Regions from separate parts of the Homo sapiens genome. Here region 2 is linked to region 1. The links come from fine-mapping of genetic effects on gene expression. A gene starts in region 1. The other region holds a variant in brackets. All regions are shown on one strand. Distances are from middle to middle.

The links.
Region 2: its variant is fine-mapped to the expression of ZNF740 in monocytes (Schmiedel 2018, PIP 0.95).

The regions. Positions count from the first base shown.
Region 1 is chr12:53,175,574-53,186,995 of GRCh38, reverse strand. It overlaps ZNF740 (zinc finger protein 740), which reads right to left and starts at 6,274. Exons shown (of 7, transcript NM_001004304.4): 1 at 6,159-6,274; 2 at 5,004-5,319; 3 at 1,956-2,105; 4 at 1,520-1,609; 5 at 919-1,042; 6 at 487-605. The coding sequence starts at 5,012. CSAD (cysteine sulfinic acid decarboxylase) reads left to right here and starts at 6,071. Exons shown (of 17, transcript NM_001244705.2): 1 at 6,071-6,264; 2 at 7,854-7,894. RefSeq lists silencers at 5,257-5,551, 5,905-6,204, 6,495-6,584 and enhancers at 6,247-6,805, 11,182-11,422.
Region 2 is chr12:54,036,713-54,048,134 of GRCh38, reverse strand. It overlaps a transcript of HOXC4 not described here. Among named protein-coding and RNA genes, the nearest start is that of MIR615, 8.5 kb to the right of the region's middle. RefSeq lists an enhancer at 795-1,694. The variant T/C (reference allele first, on the strand shown) is at 6,108.

The DNA.
Region 1 (11,422 bases):
TGGCCCCAGCTCTTACATTCTCATCAGATCAGATACTGACCCCCAGGGCAAAGATTGTATCTCTTCCTCCAAAGTGCATTAGCTCTGAAGTTGGACTGAATCCCAGCTCTGTTCGTGATCTGCGGTGTCCCTGGGAAACTTAACTTCTCTGAATCTCAATTTTCCCATACGTGAAATAAGGACAATACAGCTACCTTAGGGAGTCAATGTGAGGATTAAATAAAATCATCTATGTAAAGTATGCTCTCACAGTGCCTGGCATAGAGTAAGTGATATGGAATGCTATTATTATTATTATTACAATGTTCTAATTGCTGCTCCCCATGATCAGCTGCATAAGGCCAGACAGATGCACTTCACCCCGATGTGTTAACTATTATGGCGAGTAACGCTGGTGGCTCTTTTGTCAGGCAGGAGTGGAGGGTGGCCCTGATTCTTGGGGAAGGAAAAGTGTGTGTGGGGTATTGTAGCAGGGATGAGCCTTACCTGATGACACCGTTCACACTGGTAAGGCTTTTCACCACTGTGCACACGCTTGTGGCGTTCCAGGTGGTACTTCTGGATGAAACGCATATCACATATATCGCATTCAAATGGCTTCTCACCTGGCCCAGGTGGACAGAGAAGTGAATGTGGGGAGGTATGTACAGTAGGGACCTCATTCCAGTTTTCTCAGAAACTTTAACTCTTAGTAATGTGTAGACACCTAAGTGATCATAAATGGGGAGAGGTCCCCAAAGGTGCTGGTCTCAGTGACACCAGATACAAAGCCATGCAATCTCTCTGCTTCATTGACTTATCTTCTTCCTTCATTTCTAATACTTACCCATTAAAATAAACCCAACTAGAGCCACAAACAGACATGGAATACAAGCGATAGACTATTCTCCCCCTTTTGAATATAAACAAGAGACTTACCAGTGTGAATAAGGATGTGCCTCTTTAGGTGGTAACTGCTCCGAAAGGCTCCAAAGCAGTGTTCACAAACAAAATTTTTGGGAATCTTTACTTGAAAAGAACCATTTTGTTCCACTACCACCACCTGGGGGCAATAATCAGGCATGTCATGAGGCCACCACTGCCCTCTTCCTGGAGACACTGTTCTACTCTGGGTCCACTTCCAGCTGTTGGAGAAAGGAACCTCTCTGATGCTGTCTAAAGGTGCTGCCATCTCCTGTACTCCATGGAGGTAAGAGACCCTTTGGGGAAGGAGGTGGAGTGGGTAAGCTGTCTATCCTGTCAAACCCAGCAGTCTGAGTATGACTTGAGCTGGAGCCTGCCTGCTCCCATGCCTCGGGATCTGGGATCTCATGCTCCCCAACCTGTACCATTACTGTTCCAGCAAGGCAGGAGATCAACTACCAAGGTAGTCTCTGGATGAAATCTGGGGGACTCACTCACTGGCTATCAGAGATCAAAGCATCTAGGGAAAGCTCCAGGTTACATGGTAGAGGGAAGAAGGAGGAATATTACCCCATTACCAAACTGTATGAGTTTGGGGGATCACCCCATTACCTGCCTTTTTAACAGTCTTTTTTGAATGAGAGGCCTCAGACAAGCTGTCATCATCTTTGCGGCTCCGGGACTTATCACTGTCTTTTCGGTGACCCTTTGAAGACAAATCAAATCTAAACTCATAGCCCATCTCGGAACATGAGATGAGACCCAATGCAGCTCTCAGACAAAATTCATAAATGAGAGTAAACCACCTGCCCCGAAAGCTTAGAGGAAGTATACAACTATTTCCTCTCCAAGCACCTGGTCTTAAAAGAGTTGAAGGCACACAAAAGACCTTCCTTAGCTTTCTGAAATACCAATGTTCATCCATTCCCCAGTTGGATCCCCTTGCCCCACTTCCCTATGAGGAAGCATCAAGGAATCAGAGCTTGGTATCTCCTGGCAGAGAGCTTGGGCCACCCGATCCCCAGGTGCCACAATGGACTCAAGCGCTGTACCTGACTCGAGCACCTCAGCACATCAGGGCTACCTGCCCGCTCGCCATTCTCGGCCTGCTTGCTGGCAATCTGGCTCAGCATCATCTTCTTGCTGGCTGCAGTGGGAACCAAACTCACACCTGCTAGGCCTTCACAAGCCAGGAGACTTGCCTAAGTTGAAAGGAGATGAGGTGTCAGGTCACCTGGCAGGGCAGGGCAAAAACAGACTGCCATCCTCTATAGAACTACCTTTTACACCCTGCTACAAACTGCTTCTCTCCAGGGAATGTCCCTCCTCACTGCCAAAGCCTTGCTTCCTTCAAGAGTCCTCCCTAACTCATCTCACCAGGAACGACTTATCTTGTCATCCTTCAGCATTTAAATATAGATCAAGTAAATAATCAAGTATTACTGACACCTTTGTCATCAGCACTAGGCAGTGTGTGGCTACATATTTCTTTGAAGGTATTTCTAGGCCTTAACTGTGAGTGGGTATGAGGTTCCATCTTGCTAACCCACTGACACAGGAGATTCCTTCAGGACCTTCCTCCTTCCTCCCTCAACAGCCCTCAGCTGGGCCGAGTGCAGTGGCTCACACCTATAATCCCAGCACTTTGGGAGAATGAGGCGGGCGGATCACGAAGTCAGGAGTTCGAGACAAGCCTGGACAATAGGTGAAACCTTGTCTATACTAAAAATACAAGAATTAGCCAGGTGTGGTGGCACACACCTGCGGTCCCAGCTACTCGGGAGGCTGAGGCAGAAGAATTGCTTGAACCCGGGAGGCGGAGGCTGCAGTGAGCCGAAATCGCGCCACTGCACTCCAGCCTGGGCAACAGAGCGAGAATCCCTCCGTCACTCACACACACACACACACACACACACCCCTTAGCTTCAGAGCGCGCGCGCGCACACACACACACACACACACACACACACACACACACCCCTTAGCTTCAGAGCCCACTTTTGATTGGCAGATCTTGCTGGTGCCAACTGTATTTTCTATCGGTTTGTTTCATTTTTTGCTTGTTGGTTGAGACAGGGTGTCACTCTGTCGCCCAGGCTGGAGTGCAGTGGCACGATCTCGGCTCACTGCACTCTTGACCTCCCTGGCTTAAGCGATCCTTCTACCTCTACCTCCTGAGTAACTGGGACTTCAGGAGAATGCCACCACACCCGGCTATTTTTTTTTGTATTTATAGAGACGGGGTTTCACCATGTTGCCTAGGCTGGTGTGGAACTCCTGAGCTTAAACAATCCTCCAGCCTCAGTCTCCTAAGGTCCTGGGACTACAGGCTATTTCTCCCTTTAGATTTTAAACTCCCTAAGTATTTACCAATTGCAACTGATATGATTTTTGGAGTTCAGCATTTCTCTTGACCTCTTAGGCCATTTATATGTGTGCTTGTATGATCACATTTTTTTTCACATTCCTTGCTCCATATATAATTTAAACAATTACTTAAGTAAGGTATGTTTAAGTAAATTTCCAGAAAACTGCTACATTCTTCAAACTGACTTCGGTTAGCCGGCATTAAAGAAAATACTTTTCTTACTGAAAAAAAAAATTTTAAGAAATCGTTGGTCAGCAAACTCACAAATTTATGAAGAAATTCCTTTTAGATGATCAGTACGTTCTGGGACCCCTCCCTCCACCTTCTGGGACTTTGGAGTGAAAGATCCAGAGTTAAAATCTTAGCTCAGCTGTTTGCACTCTATAATCTTGGGCAAGTTATTCCACCTTTGCAAGCCTTAGTTTCCTTACATGAAAAATGCCTGTCATAATGCTTATCCTTACAGGGTTGATGAAAAGTAAACTAAGACGTAAAACGCTTAACAGTGTCTAGCACAAAGTTCAGTCCTTAGTGGAAGGCAGCATTCTCAGAAGACTGAATACAATGCTGAGAAGTGGGTTGCAAAACACAAAGGAAGAAGAAACTGACAGGCTCCTATTCTATATGGAAAGGAGGAAGCTGTGCATTCAGAAGCAGCTGGAGGAAAGCCAATTATACTACAATCAGACTGCCATCCTGGTGAGACTGGTAGGGAGGTTCCCTAGAAGCAAGCTGGGAGAAGCTCTGGAGATGTGTGCACATAGCTATTCTACTCAGATGACTACAACAGCCTATCTGCTCATTCTGTCTCTCCAGTCCATCCTCTACCTCCACAATAATGACCTTCTACATAACACTGATCTGATGCTACTCTGCTGCTTAACTTAGCGAGGCATAAAAGGCCTTTGGGTTACACTCTGCTTACTGCAGGGAACAACTTCCTCACCTATCACTGTCAATACTACCTCCATAACTATCCCCATTTAAATCCCTTACTCCGTAACTATCAAACAACCTGCAGTACTCGGAACCTCATCACATTTTCCCATGACTCTAAGCTCCTGCCCATGCTGTTCCTTTTGTCCAAACACCCTTCTCGCTTGTTTAGCAAAATCCTATGCATCTTTCAACCTCCATCTTCTTTTTCTATCCAAGCAGAAGTACTGTTCTCTCCTATGTACATACCCCTATTATTGCACATTCCTCAATCAACAGATTCAGAGTCTCTACTACTAGCCAGCCACTATACAAGGCATTGTGAATATAAAAATAAATGGCTTTCCATCCCTCTCCCGACCCCAACTAGCCTGGAAGCTCACTGGGGACAAGGACAATCGTATTCATCTTTGTATTCCCAGCACAATGCCTTGCATGCAACAGGAACTCAATAAATTCCTGTTGGAAAAAAACAAAAGAAGCATTCACCGTACTATTCACTCCCTTACACCCCTCAGCACTTAATGTACCAAATGTAAACTGAGTACACGTTGCTTTGCAAATGTCCCATCAGTGCCTGTGATGCAGTATAGCCTACCTCCTTCATTTGACTGGAAGCTCCCTGAAGGCAGGGGCTGTGGCCTGTCTCCTTTCCTTCCTCTAGATCTCCCCCTGGTGCTTAATACAGAGCTTGGATCACTGGGGTTGGTCAATATGTTGACTAAGGCAGCATTCAAGAGTGAAACTGCAAACAGGCTTCCCAGTTATCTTGGAGGAGGACTCTAGAGCTTTTTACCTGAGCCATGCTGATTTCTCACTTAAGGCAACCCAAAAGTTCAGGAGTTCCTAGGTCCACCTTTCCTTGAGACACTGTCGTTTTGAAGAACTGTCACCAAATCACGGTAGCGACTCCTTCGTGTCCCATCAGTCCTGTTGCCATATTGAACTTTGTCTTCAAATAGAACTTAGTGTCCTCCGAAGAAAAGATAGGTGTTCCAAGAATCCCTGGACTCTGCCTGGCTCCTGCCTATTGTCTGAAGAAAAAGAGAGTCTACCAGTCTTGGTTTTCCAGTTGAATTCTCTTGATGAAGCTCACGATCTGTTTCAGAAACCTGAAACCAGAAAGGAAGAGGGGGGCTGCTAAATGCAACATCTTCAGGCCATTACAACGTGCGATATGAATTTTTTTTTTGCTGGGCGCTCTCTGTGAAGCTCAGAACGAGGACATGAGTCAAGAAGAGTTTTCTTTCTAGGTCAATAGGAGGAACTGGTCTCCTGGGCAAGGAGTGGAAGCCAACAGGAGCAAAAGTAATTGGGGCCTCCTATGGAGGAACTCTGCCAAAAGGAAAGTTGCTTGGATTTGCCATCTCAGGAATGGAAGAAGGGGGCGGAGACCCTTTGGGGCTTTTGTGCCCAGTGGGCCGGCCCGAAAAGCTCGCACTTTACAGAGGCGGCAAGACTAGGGTGGAGGAAAGCTCAAGGGCCATCGCTGGGTGCTTCGGTGGCGGGCAGAAACGGGACTGGCAGTGCCCACACGTGTGCGTTCTCCCCGTCCGCCCGAAGGTAGGGAAACTTGCTGCGGAGGTGGAGGACAGGCAGGCGAAGCCCGGCGCGGCGTGTCGCCCGCCTCGCTCCGGCCAGCCAGCCTCTGCACCCGCTGCACCAACCGGGAGCAGAGCCGGAGAGTGCCGAGAAGCGCGCGAGATGCGTGCTCGCGCCCGCGTCCCCTCCGAGAGCCCTCTCCCGGGCCGGGGACGCGGCGGGACGCGCGGGCAGGGGGCGGTGTGCGCGCACGGCCTTTCCCCTCCCTCCCCCGGAGATCCCCCTCCCTTCGCCACGCGCCCCTCCTCCCCTCCCCTCCCCCTTCCCGCGCGGCACCCCACGGCTTGCGAGCTACTGAAGCGCTGCCGTCTGTACGGACGACGCTGCGGTCTTTGGGGCTTGCTCCTACCTGCCAGGCGCGGCCTCCCGCTGGCTCCCTGGCCGCGCGGCGCCTCCTCCAGGCCCCAGCACACCCTGCCAACCCCACCGCCGCGGCTGCCCCCACCGGGACCGAGGCAAGTTTACAAACACCAACCCCGGCCCGTTTCCCCGGAAGCACTTCCCCCTCCCCCTCGTCCTCTCCGCCGAGCGGCTGCATCCACTTCCGGGCTCGGCAGCTAGACTAGCGGGGGCAGCCTCAGAGCGGGTGAGCTTGGGGACGCACGGAGAGGTGCAGCTGGGTGAGTGGGCGGCGCCGTGCGCCGAGGGCATGGAGGAGGGAGCGCTGAGGCCGGCGCGTGCGCCGTGGCCGGGGCGCGCCCCGGCCGCCATCGAGACTGAGGGCAGGACCCTCGGCCCTTCGATGATTGTACGCTGGGTGCTCGATGGGAGGAGGGTTTGCTGGGTGAGCTGGTTCAGACTCCTTGAAAAATCATCGTCACTCTTTCTTCCTCGCGGACGTCCTGCCCATCGCTCTGAGCCGGCGCCCCAAGTAGAGCCAGAGTAGTTCGTACCCAGCCTTTTCACGTAACTCGGCCGAGGTGGTTCTTCTCCGAATTTTTTCCGTCAGGCCCAGATTAGCAGATTTTGGGGTCAGCTGGGAGAGGCGTTAACTTTTCTTCGCACACTCTTGCTTTGTGCGCTCAACCACAGTCTGAATTCTCGCAGAGGCGTTCCTTGAGTAGCCCTTGGCCACACTGCTCACCTCCCTGCAGAAGTCAAAGCCCCAGCCCTCCTCTGCGAATCCCGAGGCCAGCCTGGTTGGTTACCTTCTCCCCTTCGCCCTTTACTCCAGGCCGTCCAGCATCAAACACTAGCCTCCACACGTGGAAAAGACCCTGACTCCCACAGTAGACTAGTCTTATGGGAGTCCTGGCTCTTGGGCCAGGCTGCATTAGGAAAATGGAAACCAGACTGTCTTCAAATTCTTCTGCCTAGCCTTAGCCATTAGAGAGAGGTCCTGCTAAAGATGGACTGCAAATGCGCTTGATGGAAGGAGATGTCAATTCCACTGAAGTCCTCATTTCTGCTGTAGGTGATATTATGTCGTGACTTTAGGAGAAGTAATGGTGATACCAAAAGAAAAAAAAAACTGTATGATGAAAAAAAGACAAGGATTCTCAACTTTTTTTTTTTTGTAGACAGATTTCATTTCCCTGAGCCACTCCATGATTTGGGCCATTGAAAGTACGTTTTTTGTGTTTTAGGATCATTCTAAAATAGAGACAAAATGGAGAAAGAGAGAGATAAAGAAACATCACCAGGAATAAGTCTTTTAAATCTTTTTTGAAAATTAGCTCCTACTTATTTTACAAATCGACACAACGCAAAAGTATAAAAGACACAAAATGGTTATTCTCCCCCTCTACTTATCCCATGCTCCTGAAGGGAATCATTCTTACCAGTTTGGTATATATGCTTTTAGGCTTTTTTCTGTGTTCATACAAAAATCTTTTCAACCAGTATTTATTGAGCACCTGTAATGCGCCATACAGTGTATTTTAGACATCTGAGTCAGCTAACATTTAAAAAACTGTTGCACAGTATTCCAGTTTATGTGTGTGCCTTGTCCCATCTTGATGAACATTTAGGTTTCAGATTTTTTTGCTTTATAAACAATACAATAATGAACATCCTTAAATAGTTATCTTTTTGCTCCGGGCAGGGTGGCTCACACCTGTAATCCCAGCACGTTGGGAAGCCGAGGTGGGCGGATCATCTGAGGTCGGGAGTTCCAGACCAGCCTGACCAACATGGAGAAACCGCGTCTCTTCTAAAAATACAAAATTAGCCGGGCGTGGTGGCACATGCCTGTAATCCCAGCTACTCGAGAGGCTGAGTCAGGAGAATCACTTGAACCCGGGAGGCGGGAGTTGTGGTGAGGCGAGAGTCGTGCCTTTCCTGGGCAATAAGAGTGAAACTCTGTCTCAAAAAAGAAAAAAAAGTTACCTTTTGCATTTATAAGGATTTATAGATAGGATATGTGCTTTTATTTAAATTTATTTTTATTTTTATTTTTTTTTGAGATGGAGTCTCACTCTGTCACCCAGGCTAGAGTGCAATGGCACAATCTTGGCTCACTGCAACCTCCACCTCCCAGGTTCAAGCAATTCTCCTGGCTTAGCCTCCTGAGTAGCTGGCGCCTGCTGCCAGCCCGGCTAATTTTTTTGTATTTTTTAGTAGAGATGGAGTTTCACCATGTTGGTCAGGCTGGTCTTGAACTCCTGACCTCAGGTCATCTACCCACCTTGGCCTCCCAAAGTGCTGGGATTCCAGGTGTGAGCCACCACACCCGGCCCTATTTTCATTCTGTTTAAAGATAGGGTCTTGGTCTGTCGCCCAGGCTGGAGTGCAATGGTGCAGTCAGGGCACACTGCAGCCTCAACCTCCTGGGCTCAAGGAATCCTCCCATCTTAGCCTCCCAAGTAGTTGGGACTACAGATGTGGGCAACTGTGCCTGGATAATTTTGTAGTTTTTTTTTTGTTTTTTTGTTTTTTGTAGAGACAGGGTTTTGCCATGTTGCCCAGGCTGGTCTCGAATTCCTAGGCTCAAGCTATCCATTGGCCTCGGCCTCCTAGAGTGCTAGGATTACAGGATTGAGCCACCATGCCTGGCCGGATATGTAAATTTTAATAGATTCTGTGAAAATGAATTGTAAAAGTTTGTAACAACTCCCATGTTTACTCAGAACCATGTGTGAATGTTCCCTATTCCTACAACTTTGGCAATGTTTAGTGTATGCTATGAATTTTTTATACAGTTACTAGTTTAATGGGTGAAAAATAGTATTTGTTTTAATTTTCATGTCATTAATAGTGAAGTTAATATTCTCTTATTGCCTTTTTTTTTTTTAAGAGATGGGTCTCTGGACAGGCACGGTGGCTCACGCCTGTAATCCCAGCACTCTGGGAGACCGAGGTGGGCGGATCACCTGAGGCCAGGAGTTTGAGACCAGCTGGGCCAACATGGAGAAACCCCATCTCTACTAAAAATACAAAAAAATTAGCTGGGCTTGGTGGCACGTGCCTGTAATCCCAGTTACCAGGTGGCTGAGGCAGGAGAATCACTTGAACCCGGGAGGCGGGGGTTGCAGTGAGCCCATATTGTGCCATTGCACTCCAGCCTGGGCAACAAGAGCGAAACTCTGTCTCAAAAAATAAATAAATAAATAAATAAATAAATAGATGGGTCTCCACGCTTTGTTGCCTTAGGCTGGTTTCCAACTCGTGAGCTCAAGTGATCCTCCCACTTCAGCCTTCCAAATAGGTGGGACTATTTTATTGCTCTTTGACCATTTTAATTGTTTTTGTAAACTGTCTGTTCATATCCTTTGCCCATTAAAAAAAGGTAGATCATTTGTATATTTCTTATTGATGGTAGAAATCCTGTCTGTGTTATGGATAATAACTATTCTTTGTCGTCTGCATTTAAAATATTTTCTCTTTTTCACTTATCTTTCAGCTTTTGAGACAAAAGTCATGCTTTATGGGAAAATATTTGAAACATTTCTGTCTTTGCTAGGAACAAGCCAGGGATGTTTACTATTAAAACTAAGATTTTAGGAGAGCTCCTGGCCACCCTAAAGCCTCCTTGATTTCATATATATTCATCTTACAAAGAGAAACGATTGACAATGTATCAAAACTATGGAGTTCAGCAACATGACCAGATGTCAGATTAACAAACAAAAATTATATAAATAAAATATAAGAATATAACCAACACTAAAATACCATAGAATAAATAATCTGATTCACAATAAAAACATTATATTTTGGCCAGGCGAGGTGGCTCACACCTGTAATCCCAGTGCTTTGGGAGGCTGAGGTGGGAGGATTGCTTGAAGCCAAGAGTTTAAGACCAGCCTGGGCAACATAGTGAGACCCTGTTTACAAAAAATTAAAAAATTAACCCGGCATGCTGGCATGTGCCTGTAGTCCTAGCTACTCAGGAGGCTGAGGTGGGAGAATTGTTTGAGCCCAAGAGTTCGAAGCTGCAGTAAGACATGATTGTGCTACTGCACTTCAGCCTGGGTGATACAGCAAAACTTATTCTCTAAAATAATAAATAAATATTTTTTTTTTTTTTGAGATGGAGTCTCGCTCTGTCACCCAGGCTGGAGTGCAGTGGCATGATCTCGGCTCACTGCAAGCTCCGCCTCCCGGGTTCTCGCCGTTCTCCTGCCTCAGCCTCCTGAGTAGCTGGGACTGCAGGTGCCCACCACCATGCCGGGCTAATTTTTTGTATTTTTAGTAGAGATGGGGTTTCACCATATTAGCCAGGATGGTCTCGATCTCCTGACCTCGTGATCCACCCGCCCTGGCCTCCCAAAGTGCTGGGATTACAGGCGTGAGCCACTGCTCCCAGCCCCTTCTGGTATTCTTGTTTTTTTTTTTGAGATGGAATTTTGCTCTTGCTGCCCAGGCTGGAATGCAATGGTGCGATCTTGGCTCACTGCAACCTCTGCCTCCCGGGTTCAAGCGATTCTTCTGCCTCAGCCTCCCAAGTAGCTGGGATTACAGGCATGCACCACCACACCCGGCTAATTTTTGTATTTTTAGTAGAGACGGGGTTTCACCATGTTGGTCAGGCTGGTCTCGAACTCCTGACCTCAGGTGACCTCAGGTGATCCACCTGCCTCGGCCTCCCAAGTGCTGGGATTACAGGCTTGAGCCACTGTGCCCGCCCCTCACCCCCCCTTCTTGTATTCTTATGGTTGTATATTTTCAGTTTCTGTCTTTATCTTAGCTGCAGTTAATTTTTGTCAATGATGAGAAATAGTGAGAAATGCCACACGGACCTGTGATGCAGTGGAAGAGGTAGCCTAAAGTCAGAAAGTCAGTGATCTAGGCTTGTTCCCATGTCACCTTTGTAATTTTGGACAATTAGTTCACCTTCTTTCAGCTAAGAATCCTCATCTTGAAAACAAGAATGAATAAATACCTATTTAGGCTAATTTCTAATACTATTGTGAAGGTCAAATAAGATAATAAATGAGAAGGAAAAACACCCTTTGCAAATCTATTATCATTACTACAGATTCTTGGTTGATGCAAATCAAATGTAAGTAGAATGCAGCATTTTTTCCAGTACCTGCAAATCATTGATTGATTTAACAAATGTTTATGTAATGCCTCTGTGCAAGTCCCTGGGGGAGGGGAGAGGACAATCAAGAAGATGGAAACTAACATTTGAGGGGTCCCTGTTTTCTATTAGTTTACTTAATGAAGGAA
Region 2 (11,422 bases), 860 kb before region 1:
AGCCCCAAGCTCTCCCTTTAATAACCCCGTCTGCCTCGCACACCCCTTCCAAGCCTCGGCCCATAGATCAGAGTCTTTCCGGGCATGCTTTGAATCCTGGGTTGGAGGAATCAAGGCCGAGAGAGATTTCTTAGTGCCTGAAACTGGGGTGTCACCTCCCTCCATCCCCTCAAACCCAAAGGCAGCATCTTGATGCCATTTGGGTTCGCAAACTTGCCTTGGCAAAATCGTGGCACCAGTGGGATCTGGGGAGCGGCCTTCAACTGCAACTGCGCGTCTCAACCCCACAAAAACGGGAAAGTCGGAGAAGGGGCCATCGGAGGCTTCAGGGTCTGGCCTGGGAGAGGGCACCAGAGTCTGCTCTTCCTAGCCAAGCGGGAATCAATAGCGATGTGTTATAAACTTCCCCGAAGCCCCTCCGCGCGCTCTGGTCCTGGCGGGCGAGCCACGTCCCTAAGCCGCTCGCCAGCCTCGGCCTGCACCTTGGCCGCCTCCTCCGAACCCGGGACCCCCAGCCTTGGGCTTCGTCCCCTCCCTGTTTTAATTACGTGATTGATTTCCGCTTTGGCCGCCTCGGGACGCCTCTGCCTCCGACTGTTTAAATCTTTCGGCTCCTTTTGTGTATTTCCGAGTCCTCCCGGCGGGCTGTAATTTACAGGCGGCCCCTCGGCGGCCGGCGCGCACCTCGCGGCCTGGGTCCGGGGCGGGCTTCGGCCTCGCCCTACATTCCAACGAAATGGTCCTGCCGCGGTGCTCGGGAGACCGGCTCTGCAGCGGCCCCGCGGCGCGGGACTCTCAGGCTGTGGTCCTGCCCATTCGCTTTCTGAATTATTTTGTGCTCCATTATTCTCTGATAGGAAAACGTTCCCTGTGTGGGTTATCCCTTCAGGCCTGGCCTCAAAGCTGGGCTCTCCGCGGTCCTGTGCTTTTCTCCTCCCCCGAATGAGGTGTGTGTTGAAAGGTCTGGATTAAGCCCGGAGGAAGCGCGACGCCTGGCTCCAGGCTTGCGGGGAGCTAGAGCCCCTTCGCCTCAAACACCTGGGCCCTGCGCTGGCGGGCGAGAAGCACCAGAAGAGATGCGAATTCGGCCACAACTTTACGCCAGTCAGCGCGAGAGGGACCACAGGGCTGGCGGTCCCCACTGCGGCCCCTACCCCGCAGTAGGCGGTGGATCTGACTTTCGCTCCACAGCCCAGAGGCCTCCTCGCCCTGGCAGCCCCAGCGGGCACCTGGCAGCAGCCTGGGGTGGCTGCGCGCACCTCCGCCCGGGAACACGCTGTTCAGCCCCTCCACCCAAGGGATTGAAGGTGAGGCGAAGGAAGGGAAAGAGGGGAGAAATTGATGAGAAGGGTAGACTTAGGGTGGGGAGAGAAAGGGGAAGACAAGAAATGAAGAAAAGGAGCCCCTTCTCCCACTGTGGCTGACTTCTTTCCCTTTCTCTTTTTCCTCCCCAAACTGCTGGTTTTCCACTTATTCTCTCATTTATTTACAACAAATAAACATTGCTCTGCTTATTCTACCACGTTGTGTTCATTCTTTGATCTTTTCTAACGAGGCAGCAATGAGTTACCATTAACTGTGTATATATATATATATATTTCCCTCAAGGAGAGAAGGGGATTGGGAATGTCTTTCTGACTGGGAAGAAGTTCAGTGACACTTGAGTTGGCCACAACCTTCTCCCTGTCCCCTGACCTACGACACCCCAATACTTGTCCCCCAGGCCCCCTCCCCCACAGCAATGTTGCCGGGTAAATAAGAGTCCGCCTGCCTGGCTATTAGGATTCTGGAGACGTTGGCATCTGTAGCAATCATTAGTCAAAGCCGCGGAAGCCAAAGGAGCCGAGGAGTTGGACAGAAAAAATCTTGGAAATGATATACAGGAGACGCGGAGGCATCAATCCCAGCCGATAAGAGCGGGGCTGCTGGGCGCAAGGCGGCCGCTTAATTGGGCCCTGGGCACCGAGAACAACTGGGGAGGAGGAACCTATGGGTTGTGCAGTAACCCTGGCATCATTTGGGCACCCTATAAAAACAGTTGGGGACTTGATCCCTTTTTCCCCCACATTTCAAAGGCCCAGTGGGGGGTGTAGGGAGATATACAAGCCCCTGTCAGCCTCTTGCCCTGGGGATCCAACAGGAACTGGGCTGGAGGACTCTCCCCTTTCTTCTCTCCCCCTTCTTTTTAGTGGCTACCTTGAGAGGTAGGGAGCTTCGGCTTGGATCTCAGGTCACAGAGGCAGCCTGGAGGCAGTCTATGACCCCTAGAGTAGGTTTTCGAGGGACAGATAACTTAGTGGGACTAGATTTTGGAGATGGCCTTAGAAATAGAGACAGAATTACTTGCTTTAATAAGCCAAACATCCAAAATATATTTGTTCCCTACCCCCACTCACCTAATATCTTTTTATATCATAGACACAGAGATAGAGAGGGAGACAGAGAGATGCAGTAAGTTTAAGTCCTTCTAGAAGGGAGATCTATGCCCCTATACACAGATGCATGCATTATGAAACCATCTCTAAACATATGTTCAAACATGTAAGTTTTTCAGCAAAAATGCAAAGACTGTAAAGATCTCTAAATATGTAGCTTCAATATGTAGCTATTTTATGGGTTAGGATCCTTGCATAAATCTAGATAAAATTTTCAAAATAGACATTGAACACACACATAGTTCTTTCCAACAAAGAAAAAAATTTCCAAATATTCACTTAGGTGTTTCAAGAGAGCTGTACCAATACATCCTAGCATATACATCCAACCACTATAGAAAGATTGGTAAAGTGCACACAGGAATTTGACCGAGGACTGTTATGTTCACTATGGATCTATAAATCTGCATTTAAATGTGGAACAAAAAGGAATATAAAACATACATCCTGATATAGACATAGAACGATCTATAAATACGTTTTCACATATATAACTATGGGAGCGCTCAGCTCTCTGTGAAGATTATTTGCATGGAGTCCTAGGAATGAAGAGGAATCTCTAGTGCTTGTGGGTTTGGGGTATCCCAGCCCAGGCTTCTCTGAGAAAGAAATGAGGGTGGACTAGAGACTTCGCAAGTGCTAAGAGGGCCCGGAACTCATATAATCTATGACATATTTCCAGCATATAGGGGCATTTTGCTGGCAATGAATATAAGCCCTGATGCCTGGGCCTGAAAGCTTCCTGACCTGATCTGGCTTGAACTAAGGCTGAATTAGAGGGCTCTTAACTTTGTTTTCCTTCAGCTCTGTAGCCCCAGGCACAAGGGAGGGACTTGCCAGCCAGGGGGTGGGGGATCCTTAGGAGGGGAAGACTCATTATCATTAGGAAATGGAGTTATTTAGGTAAAATATATTGTTTGTTTGGTACATAGAGATGTGAGAAGGCTGGGGGCTTACACACACACACACACACAAACACACACACTCACACACCCCTGCACCCATCTTAATTACAAAAAAACCCAGTGACAGACTGCAGAGTTTCCTCCATTCATGCGGTACACGATGGGGTTCCCCTATGCCCCGCTGCCATCTCCTCTTATTCCTAGCTCCTATGAACTCTGTCTTATACATCTGAAGTTCTACCTTGTCAAAGGGGGTTTGGGGCTTGGGGAAAGAGTGACAGGGAGAGATCAGCCCCAGAACAGAAGAGTCCTGATATCTACAGCCAGGCTCTGAGGCTATTTACTGTCAATGTTAGTTCCTTTGTGACTGAGGGGTTGGGGGACCAGGGACTGCATGGGCAAAAGGAAATGAAACGTTGCATTATTTTTTAGGGGAAAACTTTGAGGGAAAAAAAAATCACCAATTAGCCTTTTAAAAAAGAAATTGGAGTCAGAGGATTTTGAAGACTCCAGATGCTCTGTTATATTTCTCCTTTAGTTTACTGGGGAAGGGAGGAAAGGAGGGGCCTCAGGTGGGCTTGGGGAAGTGCAATCCAATCTGCCAAGCCAGCTTTGGGGGAGAGTGATTTACAAAGCAAAACCTCAGATGCTACTTCCTGAGAAGTCACCAGATCAAAACACCCTACTCTAGGCGTTTATGACCCTGTCTTTACTCCCAACAGGAAAAGCACCCTCAATAAAACCTCAGCCTGTGCCCCCATCCTCCACCCAGGGGATGGGGAGAGACACAACATAAAATGAAAGACCTGACCCTTACTACTCCCTAAACACACACACACACACACACACACACACACACACACACACACACACACAGCCTGTGTTTTCCAGCCAGAAAGTTGACTTTTAAAAGAAGTATTTACTAGACAAGATTTATCTCTAATGTCTGAGCAAGGGAGCCCTGAGGAGTTTGGAGTTTGAGCTTGGAACAGAAGGAGAGGGGGATTAGATCAGATAAGATTCTGGCCTCCTTGGACCCTCCATGTCTCTTCAACTCCTGACAACTCAATCTGGGCCAACACAACACTGAAGATCACAGAAAGCCTGGCTGCCACCATCCCTGGAGTCAGCTCTAGCGTTTGAGTTTTCCAGAAAGGCAGAAGGAAGGAAACTCAACAGCTGCGCAGGGCTTGAGGGGTGGGGGTGGGGTGGGGAGGACAAATGGTTTCCAAGCTGGGCTGACGGGAAGAATGGAGTGGGAGGGAGGAGTGGGAAGTTGGTTCCATGCTGGTTACTGTGTCCAGCCCAGGCTTCTGACCTCTACCATACCATCCTTGGGCACATATATGTGTTTCTGTGTGTTCAGGTATTCTGGTGTTCAGGGCCAGGGGCTGGGGTAAATGAGAATCTTTAGAGGGCAGAACCAAGCCTGAACTGCCTCTCTGAGACCTGTGGTGCAGAACTGAAAGGATCCTAGGTGACCAGGCTACACATTTCACCCAGCCCATATGGGGTTGCAGATCACTGTAGAACTTTCTCTGTACATGTGTACAGATGCAGAGAAGCAGCCTTCTCCCTGCACTTGCTCCCCAGCATGCCTGGAGCAGTGGACCGGCTCAGGGCCCAGCCCAAGTGTTCAACCTCTTCTCATAGCTGCTAAAATGTGGTCCTTAGAGGCTGAACAAGGTCCTGCATAACCGAGTCCAATTTTCCCAAGTCCCACATTGCACACCCATACCGCTTCCTCTGAGGTATCTCTGTTCCCCTTTTGCCTCTCAGTGAACCTTAGGATTGGGAGAGGGAGATGATTACAAGGGTTGTGTAGGCCTCAAAAATAAAGAGATTTGTATCACCGAAGTTCCTCAACCCAGACCTTGTCTGGCAATTCCTTGGGCTCCTGGAGCCCCATCAAAGCTGCTAGCAGAGATAGTATCAGTACAGACACACCAATGTGGGTCACAAGGAGCCAATAAAAGTTGGGAGGGGTAGGAAAGGATGTGACTTTCTTGGCTCTCAAACAGCATCGTCTTCTCCTTAAATTGAATCATTCACCCCAAAACCCTAGTTTGGCACCCTGATTTCAGATTTTCTTTCTCCTTCACCTCAAAGGGCTTCAGGGGCCCTAGTCCCACTAAAGAAGAGGCTCAGGGTGGTGGTGCTTGTCTTCTCAGCAAAAAGGACCTAATTAAATCCTAGAACAATGATGTTTCAGCATTCCCCCTCTCAAAAACTCAGTCCAAAGCAGTTACAGAGAACGACAGTCAAAAAGAGAAAGTTTACCTTTTTGAGGCACTCACAAGGAGGGGTCGAGGCACTCACAAAATCTCTTTTCCCAGTGCCTGTGTGGATAGAACCAATCTCCCCCTGTCTTTGTTTCCTAACTCTTCATGAGATCTGGTACCCCAGTGTGAGAAGTCCACATTGAGGGTGAGAGTTGGTCTCCAACAATCTGCCACACCATTCACTGGGGAAGAATAAGTGTGTCCTTTAATTCTAACTCATAAAAGAGGCAAATGGGGCTGGCCACGGTGGCTCATGCCTGTAATCCCAGCACCTTGGGAGGCAAAGGCAGGCGGATCATCTGATGTCAGGAGTTTGAGACCAGCCTGACCAACACGGAGAAACCCTGTCTCTATTAAAAATACAAAATTAGCCAGGCGTGGTGGTGCATGCCTCTAATCCCAGCTACTCAGGAGGCTGAGGCAGGAGAATCGCTTGAACCCAGGAGGCAGAGTTTGCGGTGAGCTGAGATCCTGCCATTGCACTA[T/C]AGCCTGGGCAACAAGAGTGAAACTCCATCTCAAAAAAAAAAAAAAAAAAGAAAAGAAAAGAAAAGGCTGGGCGCGGTGGTTCACACCTGTAATCTCAGCACTTTGGGAGGATGAGGCGTGTGGATTACCTGAGGTCAGCCTGGGCAACATGATTAAATCTCATCTCTGCCAAAAATACAAAAATTAACTGGGTGTGGTGGTGGGCACCTGTAATCCCAGCCACTTGGGAGGTTGAGGCAGGAGAATCACTTGAACCCAGGAGACAGAGTTTGCGATGAGCCGAGATTGTGCCATTGCACTCCAGCCGGGGCGACAAGAGTGAAACTTAGTCTCAAAATAAGCAGATGGAGCAGTGTGGTTGAAGGTAACTTGAAAAGTGAGGGCTCAATGATTTCTGAGAAGAGCTGCTCTTTTTCTGGCTTCTCATCCTTATCCTTCCCACCTGGCCTGTGGCATTGTCCCCAAACCAGCTCCATCCAGAAGACAAACAATGAGGGGATTGTTGACAAAGCCCAGCTCAGTCCGGACTATCCTTCCCATTCTTGTACTCTTAATGCCCCCAGGGGGGTGCTTAGAGGTCCAGGTGCCACAGTCCATCAGAACTCCTGCCCCTTAGCTCAAAGAGGGCAAGAGATCAGGAAGAGAAGGGGAGGAGAACCCAACCAGAAAATTCACTCTGAAACAAAGCTCTAGAGAAGTGGCTGGGGGAGAATACCTGGGTCTGGACCCAGCAGTGGACTGGCTCAGGGCCCAGCCCAAGTGTTCAGGAAACACAAGCATTTCTGTCATAGCTGTGCACTCCCTGTGCCATCAGATGCTCTTACTCAGCAATAGTTTCTCGCCTATTGCTTGTTCTTGGCCTAATCCATGTAAACTCAAACACTGAAATCCACACCTTCAGTGGCTGTACCTTTTGATGGCTATTGGCCAGGACATAGGATCATCACCTAGTCTATTATTATTATTACTATTATTATATCCTGTTAAAAGAATGGAAGGGAAGGGGTTTAAACAAATCCATCAACTATTTAATGTGGAGAGTGAGGAAAGTCGGAATTCTCTGTGCTCATTCCTTTCCAGAACCCTTAACTAGCTCAAAGTTATTCGACAAACGAAAGGTACCAATCAGAACTTTCAAAAAATCTCCACTTTTGCTCCCTTCCCTAACCATGCCTGAGGCAGTCTGATAAAGCTAATGGCTATTGGAGCATTTCCAGAAAGAGAAATCAAAAGGGCTCTCCTCTCACCCCACCTGCCCTCATGAAAATCAGAAGAGAATGAATACTTGTAAGTGTATGGGGAATAATCACAGCCAGAATTTGAATTCAGGGCTGGAGTTCATATCTGTATTTGCTCTATAGTCTAATTTAGAGTCTACAACTACAACACCCAGAAAATTGGGTAGAATCACGCTGGCGAACGTGGGAATAATCCAGAGGATGCCCCCACAACTTCACATCCTTGTGCATTTGAGATTGACTCCCAGATACAACTTTGTAAGCAACTGAGGAGACAAGCCAAAGACTCCTCAGAGTTGGTTCAGGGACTGACAGAGGAGGCTAGAATATGCTGGGTATCACTCCAGCCTTCCAAATCTGAGATAGGATAAACCCAGGAGCTAAGGCTGTGGTGGGAAGGGAGGGAGGGAGGAAGGAACAGGGCCGGATGGGAAGAGCGAGACAGAGACCCAAGTAGTTTTTGCTGATTGGTTGGTGGGGACCATGTGACCCTGCTTAGTGCATTTCTGATTGGTTGCTTGACCTCTCCTTGGGTTAAAGTCCTAGGAACAAAATTAAAAGCTTCCCGGGTTGGCTGGAAAGCTTGGCACCTGATTGCCTGCCCACCCTCCGCTCCAGAGACACTCCAAATTAGGGTTTGGGGTAGTGGGTGGGAAAACCAAGAATTTCAGGCCTCCTTTGCGTTTGCCCTGTTTCCAGGTGGAACTAGAAACTTTTTAGAAAACAGTAAAAAACTGAGGCAAACTATTTGAGGGGAAGGAGAATCAATTATCACAGGAAGAGGGGTGGTATTTAAATGGAACTTTTGAGCCTAAAGAACAGAAAAGGGGGTGAAGAAGTCATCAAAGGGCTCAAGGGACGCTATGTAAATCTTTAAACACCCTCGAATGCCCGTCTACACAGAGAGGAAGGGAATGGGACTGAGATTTGGCCGAGAGTCAGGGCGGGTGTCAGGGTGGAGTCTTGCCTGGGTGTGGGACTTCGGCCCTGGCTAAATTCCCGGTTAAAGACCACTGCACTCGCTCCCTAGAGCCCTGGGGAGGCTGGAGGGTGGGGAAGAGTCAAGTTACAGACCAAGAGAAACTCCCATGTCTCCGCTGCTTGGATAGGAAAGTTTCCAGAAACTCTCAAAATCACAGACTAGAGGGAAGGAGAGAGCCAAGAAGGACGGGTAATGAGGAAGGGAGAAACTGATAATTAGTTTTTTCCAATGCGTTGCTGGAGAGAATTCCCTGGGATCCTAGGAAAATAAAGGTATCAGGGAGGAGGGTGGGGGAGGCTGAATCTTGGCCGAGACTGAGGCCCTGAGGGATGGCGTCAAGGGAATCCTCCATGTCGGGTTCCCGAGCTCCTCATGCAAGTGAGAGACCCCTAGACTGAAGAATGGGGCTCAGCTAAGACTCCCCATTTATTTGGGCCTCTGTGCCCCCTTCCTTCTCCCAGAGTCTGCCTGCTTCTCGCTTCTTCCCCAGTCCCTTGAGCAGCGGGGGCGAGGCTAACAGCATTCCCTCCTCATCCCCCAACAGCACCTCTCCACAAAGCAGATGCCCAGACACCGCTGCTCCCCAGGCATGCTCCCCTTCTGGAAGGTGCATATCTGGCTCACTCCCTCTGCTCCCCACCCCTTTCTCCCAGCCTGGAGGAGTTGCACCTATGGGTCCGCTGGCATTCAGCCCTGCTTCCAAAGCCCTGGCTATTCATGGCTGGCCAGTACAGGAGCCTGAATTCACATGTTGTCACTTTCCTGGCTTAGCTCCCGGTGACGCACAGGGAGGGATAGCAATTGCAGGTGTGGAAGACATGTGCCTCTCATGCCCAACGCTTCTGCTGCTCCTTCCTAGAAACCTGAAGGGCGCCCTAGCCTGAGGATTGACCCCAGGGTGCAGTGCTCATATTGGGCCCTGCTAGCTCCATCCCCGAGGGGCTACTCTGTCCTTAAGGTTGGGGGACTTACTTTCCCAGCCTAGCAAAGACATTGCCTCTGCTCCCTCACCCATTCAACACACAATTACACTCCACTCACAGCAGGAACCTCTAGGGCTCTTAGAGCCTAGTTTTATCTCAGGCAAGGGCTGGGAATGCCAGGAAGACCCAAGCAGCTAGAAGGAGAGGAGGAAGCATGAAACCACACTGGCTTCAGACGGACTAAGATGCCAAACTACGGAGGCTGAGACAGCTGCCCATCCAAGCCTGGTAGTGAGGGAGGGAGGGGGCACTCTGGGACCTCTGGGTTCAAACAGCCACCTTTGAGATACTTTTGCCAGTTCAGGCAGCAGTAGCCTGTGGGCGTAGAAGCCACAAAACCCTCCTTCCCTGCCTTTCTCCCCAGTTTCCCACCTTGGGCCACTGGCCAAGGGCTGAACTCACCCCTCCCTGGAACAGTGGGCCCCAGAGGCATTTTGAGCTTGTGTCTAGAGTTTACATACCCGTACAGACACCAAACACCCTTGTTGCTGCCGCTTGCTTTCTTCTCAACTGAAAGGGTCAGGAAGACCTGGCAAATCTCTAAACAACCAAGGCCTCTCTACCCCAGTTGACTTGCAGTCAGAGAGAATAAGGAGTGGGAAGGGGAGGGCTGCTCAGGGTAGACAAGCTCCCCCATCTTCCTACTTCCCAGCAGCTTTTTCTGCTGCTTCTTCTCTTCTCCCACCCCAGCCTGGGAAGGCCTTTTCCCCCTCCCCCTAATAAGTGGGAGCTGCCTTCTATCAAGTGAGGGGGGTGGTTAGGTAAATGGGAGAAAGGGTCTGAGAGAGAGAAAGAGAGAATTAACTCACAGCGTTCGCCTGGGATTCATTTGCGAAGATGTAACCTCTCTCACCATCGTCCCCAGCGCCGTAATCCCCTCTAACTGCCAGGCCCTCTGTCCTAGCATTAAACCTCACCAGCAGCTGCGTGGCTGGACAGTTAAGATTATATATGATGTAAATATATTGTGGGTTTGTCAGCTCTCCCTACACCATAAAACTTGGTTTAATGATATCACGTGGTCCCCCAAGAGCCACTCACGGGCTTGCCTTCAGGCTATTCACATAAATAACCTCCAAAAGTTTCAAACTCCTAAATTCACATAGAAGCATGCCTATTTCTCTAATGCTCAGTTACACTAAAAAGCCCTGGTGCTGTTCCTTTGCCCCACCCCCACATCCCCCTTGCAGGGTGGAGAGGGGGGAGAGGGTGGATCCTTATTTATTTATTTACTTACTTATTTCCATAAGGACCTGTCGCCTTCGAGGTCGTGTTGATCTTTTTGTCCTCTTATTTTTTCCTCCTCTTTCCTCTAATTGCTCAGAGTGGGCCGTGTCCCCCCTCTTCCCACTCCCCCGGGAAGGTAAGTCATGCTTCTTCCCCTTCTTTCTTGCTGCCAGAGGGGGTGGGTTCCAGGGCAAAGTGGAGAGGCAGGCTCCATAGTCTCTGCTTGCAACCCAGAAGACCCCTCCATAAACTCCCCCAGAGCAATGCCAGACCCTGTTACCTGGAAATATGTTCTAGGAGGCTGGCTGGTGGGGAAACTACCCCAGGCCCCAAAGCAGAAGCCCCTGTTCAGGGAGAAATCAGGGATCTGGGCCTTATGCACCCTCAGCGTAGGGAAGTAGGTACGAGGCCTCTGGCTTGGTTGCCGCCGCTGACTCCCGACGATGCTGCAGAAGCCAAGGCTGGTGCCTGGGCAGACCTGCAGATTGTGACAGGAAGGAGGAGGGCAGGCAGGCACTCTGTGTCTACCCAAGCCAAAATGAGTCAGACCTTCAGCTCCTCCAGGGAAGGAGAGGCCCAAACCCTGCCGGGAGGAGGCAGTCAGTGCACGGTGGGGCTGGTGTGCCCTGCCTGGCAGCTCTAACCAACATTGCCCCTATCTATGACAAAGCCCTTGGTTTTCCCCTGGGGTGGTGCGCCTGTCCCCTGGGGAGGAAGCACAGGGCCTGGGCAGCCTGGGAGGCTGGAACAGGTGGGTGCGGGTGCCACAGCCTCTTTCTTAGTTAACTGTTACCCACCGGAGACGCCAGTGCTTCTCCACGCTTCACTGCTCACTCAATAGTTTTACTCAGCATGGAGAAAAAATTAAAATAACTCCCTGAAGA